Linked DNA regions of Homo sapiens. The protein of the gene in region 2 interacts with the protein of the main gene of each other region in a biochemical or structural test. Each region holds a gene or a part of one and is shown on either strand. Other genes may lie near its edges.

Region 1 (3,654 bases), on a different chromosome or scaffold from region 2:
CCACTTTGAAAGGAAGAAGATGGGCTGCACTCACGTGAGGTCATCCAGGACCGACCGATACTCCTTCTCCACGTCAACGAGCTGGGAGGCACGGCTGGCCTCATGGATGGCATTGTCCACCTGCTGAAGCACTCCCTGTTCCAGCACGTCCTGGTCATAGACGTCCACACCCAAACCCTGCAGCTCAAGGGCCTGGGCGCTAGGCTCTACTGCCTGGATCTGATGTCGGTCGATGTGCAGCAGGGCTGGCCCTCTCCTCGGAGCTGCTGATGCGCACCCCACAGCAGAGGTGGACAGCCCGTCACCCACAGAACGAAAGGAGAGGTACTCCTCCACCTCCCCATCACCACCACTTTCTTGCTTGATTGCCATTTCTTCATTATTACTGACAGGTTGACTCTGTAAACAGTCTTGCTCCTGAGTTTGACTTGAGTGGGGGATTCCCTCATTTGGCATTCTCTACAGACTACCTAAAAGGAAAAAAATTTATAAGCCTTTTCGTTATATAGGATTCATTGTAGTTCTTAAATATTTTATAATTAGAGCAGACTGATTTCTCAAAAGATCAAGTAATAATCTTCCAACTACATAAATTCAAGTTTCCAAGTATTAATTTACTAAAAAGGGACAACGTATCTTCTTGAGTTCTGATAATAAATAAGAAAAATTAACCAGAAAAAGAAATGCAGTATCATCAACAAAGGACATTTAGGCAGCCAGCTAAGAAAGCCAGCCACCAAAATCCTGGGGTGATGGCCATGGAATATTCTTCAAAACAGCTGAAGTCATTTGGCTGCTGTTTTCCAAGTTAGCATCTTCATTTCATTATGACACAAATGATTTATAATATAGTGGCAAGATCAACTGTAATGCATAGGAACAGCGATGTTAGGAAAGAGCTTCTGTGTGAATCTGAGACTAGAAACTCCTAGGCTGAATACCTATCCAGTAAATAGGAGCTTTGAACAAATCAGAAGCTCAGAAGATTAATTAGGCCAGGCACGTGGCTCAGTCCTGTAATCCCAGCACTTTGGGAGGCCAAAGCGGGAGGATAGAGACCAGCCAGGGAAACACAGCGAGCTCAGGACTTCGAGACCAGCCTGGGAAAGATAATGAGACCTTGTCTCTACTAAAAATTTAAAACCTTAGCCAGGCCTGGTGATGTGCACCTATAGTCCCAGTTACTCAAGGGGCTGAGGCAGGAGGATCACTTGAGCCTGGGAGATGGAGGCTGCAGTGAGCCATGATTGCACAACTGCACTCTAGCCTGGGCAAAAGAGCAAGACCTTGTAAAATAAATTTAAAGTTTTTTTAAAAGATTAATTAAAATATTCTCAAAAATAGGCTGGGCACGATGGCTCACATCTGTAATCCCAACACTTTGGGAGGCTGAAGCGGGCAGATTACTTAAGGTCAGGTGTTTGAGACCAGCCTGGCAAACATGGTGAAACCCGATCTCTACTAAAAATACAATAATTGGCTGGGTATGATGGTGAGCACCTGTAATCCCAGCCACTCGGGAGGCTGAAGCAGGAGAATCACTTGAACCCAGGAGGCGGAGGTTGCAGTGAGATGAGATCTCACCACTGCATTCCAGCATAGGCAACAGAGTGAGACTCAATCTCAAAAAAAAAAAAAAAAAAAAACAAAAAAAAAACTCCATTTTAATACACAGTATAATTTCTCACCCATCAGGTTAGCAAGAATTCAAAGCCTGATAGATAAATCCAATACAGACAAGGAGAAGGATCCCCCCTCACATAGTGCTGCTGAGAATATAAATTAGTAAAGCCCCTTGTAGGGACAACTTAGCAATATCTATTAAATTAAAGGCACATGACCTTTGTCAAGCAATTCTAGGTATTTATTCCAGAGAACTAGTCACACACAGGTGCAAGAATGTTTAGTGCAGCACATTTTTAATAGTTTAATGTAACTACTAAGTATATTCTGTATACTGATATAAAAGCCATGTTAAGTGAAAAAATTCATGGTATGAACACACTTATGCTGAAAAAAGTATCTATCCTGCACACAGAATGATCTGGCAGGATACAAACTAAGCCTGCAAATCAGGATGGGGAAGAGAAAGCACAGGGAAAAATAAGGGGGAATGTTCACATTGTACTCCACATACTCAGGACCTGCTGCTTTAAGGAGAATATATTCACTATATTACCTATACAACTATCACATCTAATAAATATATTAAAAAGCAAAACGATAACCAAAAATCAGTCTTGCTTTTTGTTTAACTGTGAATAAGATTTCTTTGAGCACTGTAACTTTTCTGTTAAATGACAAGTTCCCCCAGTGGGCCCCACTCATCCCTTATTAAGTAAAATAAGCCCAGCAATAAAGCACCGGGATACAAAGAATTCAGCATCATCTACACCCGAGTGGCTATCCACTGGAGCAGCAGCATGTCAGTTAACAACAGAGCAGGGCAGGTCAGCTAGCCCGGGACACGGACAAGAGGTCACACGAGCATCGAGCGAACTATATATGGTGTCTGGGGCCCAAGAAATATCACGGAGGAACTGAGATTTGAACACATGGGCCATGCATGGTCTGATATATAGGAGGTGCTCAATATCTGCTGAAAGGAAGTGAGGTTCAGAGCTAAGTCTAAAATAATAAAAAGTTTGGTCTGGACAAATGAGTCACCAGTGAATTCAGTCACAAAAATGAGACTCTCAAAAAGGAAGCAGATAGGAAGCAGGACTGGCAAGCAGCTTACATGTAATCAGTACCATTTGCAGCATGCAGTCAGAAATGCAAATCTGAGCTCAAGGGAAAGTCTGGGTGACATGTGGACACATCAGCAGAGTGAGCAGTTCCAGGGTTCCCAAGGCTCTGACAGGTACCTAAGGTCATTTTGGAGGGTACGAGGAGGCTAACATTGGAAAGGTTAAAAAGTGAACAACACAGTGAGAAAGTTCCTTCTTTTGGGGCCTGCTGATTATTTTCAAGAGGAAGGCTCAGCTCACCTCACTTTCCAACAGAGAGAGCAGGATTCCAGCTCAGAGTGTCTGTACTAGCTGGCAGTTAACAATTCTGTTTTCATTTTTCTTATTTGTACACACATGAGGATTTCTTTTTAAGAAAAAAGGATGCCAATTCAACCAAAAATATTAAGTAACCATTTTTCTATTTCTGTAAAATAATATCAAAAAGCAATAGTATTGTAGTGTAAAGACAAGGTTAAAAATAAAGAAGTTTGGGGAAAACTTCTAATAATAAAAAAGGAGGAAGAGCGTCCAGTGAATGAGAAAAGGCTGAGTGAATTTGGATACCAATGGGTCACCATTTACCTTGGTAAAAGAAGTTTCAGGCCAGGCTTGGTGGCTCACACCTGTAATCCCAGCACTTTGGGAGGCCAAGGCGGGTGGATCACCTGAGTTCGTGACCAGCCTGACCCAACATGGTGAAACCCCATCTCTACTAAAATACAAAAATTAGCCAGGCGTGGTGGTGCATGCCTGTAATCCCAGCTACTCGGGAGGCTGAGGCACGAGAATCGCTTGAACCCAGGAGGCAGAGGTTGCAGTGAGCTGAGATCACACCGCAGAACTCCAGCCTGGGCAACAAGAGTGAAACTCTGTCTCGAAAAAATAAAAAAGTTTCAGTGGAGCGATAGGGCCAAAAACCAGA
Region 2 (3,006 bases):
TTTTTTTTTTTTCTTTTTTGAGACTGAGTCTCACTCTGTCACCCAGGCTGGAGTGCAGTGGCACGATCTTAGCTCACTGCAACTTCCGCCTCCCAGGTTCAAGCAATTCTCCTGCCTCAGCCTCCCAAGTAGCTGGACTACAGCACCTGCCACCACACCCGGCTAATTTAGTGTATTTTTAGTAGAGATGGAGTTTCACCATGTTGGCCAGGCTGGTCTCGAACTCCTGACTTCAGCCAATCCACCCACCTTGGCCTCCCAATGTGCTGGGACCACAGGTGTGAGCCACCGTGCACAGCCACAAGGCCATGATTTTCTTTTAAAGGATGCTTGTTTTTGCAAAAGATTTTAGAACCAACTGTTACTAATGCTTTTGATGTTGATACTGTTGGGTGCGTGAGTCTGTACTGTTTGAAAAACGTTATGTCTTGATGAGTGACTAAGAGCACAGGCTTTAGAAATACACAGACTGGTTTCAAATATTGGGGCTGGTCCTCACCTGCTGATGTGGCCTTAGGTGAGTTTCTTACCCACCCTGAGCCTCCGTTCCCTCATATGTAAAATGGGCATAATGACCGGTGGCCTTTCAGGGTTGCCCACATGAAGGGAGATAGTAGGCATGAAATGTGCCTGGCATAGACAGGTACCTGGCAGTTGGTACATGTCTCAGTGGAGGGTATGTATATTTCAGAATTCTGTAACCTTTTAGTCTCAGTAAATCATGTTTTGAACACGAATAGATTCTGGCCACCACCAGCACCCCCCACCCCCAAAAAAAGGATATTGTTATATCTTTACAAAGACATAAATTTTTCTGCCAAATTTTTTTAGGCTCTTAGAGGAGGGGCCAGGGAGGTAGGATTTATGACAAGTTAAAAAAAGGCCTTTTTAGCAGGGTGTGGTGGCTCACACTTGTAACCCCAGCATTTTGGGAGACTGCAGCGGGTGGATCACTCAAGGCCAGGAGTTCGAGACCAGTCTGACCAGCATGGTGAAACCCCGTCTCTACTAAAAATACAAAAATTAGCCGGGTGTGATGGCATGCGCCTGTAATTCCAGCTACTTGGGAAGCTGAGGCAGGAGAATCACTTGAACCTGGGAGGCGGAGGCTACAGTAAGCCGAGATCTCGCCACTCTACTCCAGCCTGGGTGACAGAGCGAGACTCGGTCTCAAAAAAAAGGCCTTTGGTTTAACAGCCTTCTTCATTTTCACCATTAGAACACTTAACACTATAACATAACTAACCAGGAGTAAGAGTTGGGGCCGAGAGGAGAGTGCAGTCTGGACATTTGAGGTGCTTGCTCTAAAGTAGGTTATGGAGCTGAGCTGACTTCAGGAAAAGCCAACTGCTCCAGGTTCTCTCACTGGGGTTCAGAGAGTGGAGTGGCCTGCCAGAGCTCCAGGTAGCTGTGGATGCGGGGAGATGAACAGCCAGCAGAGCTAGGCAAACATGAAGATGTAAAACCAGGTTAAAATGGCAACTTTTCAGCCAAGGACATGATAGATGCATGTCGTGTCCCCAGGGCTGCACCCAGGAGAGGCCTGTGTCCTCCTGCATTGATGGGGCTGCATCTTCAGGCATTAGAAACTTGAAGGCCTTTCCTTGTTAGTTCCAAGTTGTACTGCTAGCACACAGAGCAGAGGCAGGGAGGGAGTGGCATTTACAGGCCGTCCTTGAACGGCTGAGTGGGAGCTGCCCGGGTGATGCTGTGAGGCAGGGCCTTCCTGTGCTCCCTGAACCTCCAGCGTGAACAAGGAGTGAATGCTGCAGAGCAGCTCCATGATGGGCCCAGGTAGCAAAGGGAGGAGCTCACAAGGCCTGTCTTGGTGATGTGGGCCTGGGGTATTTTAACTCTGGAAGTTTCTGTTTTGCTTTATCTAAATTGAAAGGATGGTTTTGCCTTTCAGCCTTTAGAAGAAGCCACACTCTCTGAATTAAAAACTGTCCTCAAGAGCTTCCTAAGTCAAGGCCAAGTATTGAAATTGGAGGCTAAGGTAGGTTTTAAATTATTTATGGTACGTTTTCTCGGGTTATTTTAAGCTTAAAATGGCTACAGAAAGTACTAGTGAAATATTAGATCTAACTCTATACTAATTTTTCTGTAGTTAAAATTTTGTATTTATTTTAAATTTAAATGATTATCTGACTGTGCAGTTTTACTTTTGCCTTTTTCTAGGTGTAATTATAACCTCTTACATTTGTGCAACACATTTAGCCTTTCAAAACACTTTTTTGTGTGTCCCATTTGATTAGCGCGTTTTCACATTTCCAGTCTTACTTCTTTTGTAGACTGATCCGTCAATCTTGGGTGGAATGATTGTGCGCATTGGCGAGAAATATGTTGACATGTCTGTCAAGACCAAGATTCAGAAGCTGGGCAGGGCTATGCGGGAGATTGTCTAAAAGTGTTGGTTTTCTGCCATCAGTGAAAATTCTTAAACTTGGAGCAACAATAAAAAGCTTCCAGAACAGATCATATTATGTTCACTGTCTTTTAAACTGGAATGTAGAAGGCTTTATTTTTATGTCCTTTTTTGGTATCCCCTGAGTATAAAGGCCAAAAAGCCCTTTTGGCCTAGAGAATTTGGTTTGAGTAGATTATGTTTAGGAATTAATTGGTTAGACACAGCACCTAACACATGGTCACTCAGCAAAGTCTATCTGGTCCTGCCTGCCAAAATCCCGTGTCTTTAAGGGTTTGTTCAGAGTTCCTGGTCCCTACTAGATCATCGGATCTGTGTTTGATCCATAGCCCTCCAGGGAGGCCTCTTGCCCTTGATCCTAACATGAACACACCTAGTTGTAGGCTGCTCTGTAGCTTTCAAGGCCATTTCATGTACATCTGAAGCTGCATGACAGCCTTGTCACACGGGTGGGAGAGACATCACCCCACTTTACAAATGAGGAAAGAGATTGAGGGGCCCTAGAGATGTGCTCAGAGTCACCTGTCTGGACAGCTGGTGTCAGGCCCTACAGCCCATGTTTTTACCACTGTATAACTAAC

The links. Proteins that work in one complex are often made in the same cells at the same time.
Region 1: the proteins of ATP5PO (region 2) and ERCC6 form a complex in vitro, tested with the Homo sapiens proteins (one large-scale study listed by BioGRID).

What each region holds. Positions count from the first base shown.
Region 1 is NC_000010.11:49,532,509-49,536,162, forward strand, and holds part of ERCC6 (DNA excision repair protein ERCC-6), read right to left. Parts: intron 471-3,654; 5' UTR 457-470; coding exon 35-456; intron 1-34. UniProt on the Homo sapiens protein: Involved in repair of DNA damage following UV irradiation, acting either in the absence of ERCC6 or synergistically with ERCC6. Involved in the regulation of gene expression.
Region 2 is NC_000021.9:33,902,925-33,905,930, reverse strand, and holds the end of ATP5PO (ATP synthase peripheral stalk subunit OSCP, mitochondrial precursor), read left to right. Parts: intron 1-1,909; coding exon 1,910-1,996; intron 1,997-2,291; coding exon 2,292-2,405; 3' UTR 2,406-2,478; downstream 2,479-3,006. UniProt on the Homo sapiens protein: Subunit OSCP, of the mitochondrial membrane ATP synthase complex (F(1)F(0) ATP synthase or Complex V) that produces ATP from ADP in the presence of a proton gradient across the membrane which is generated by electron transport complexes of the respiratory chain.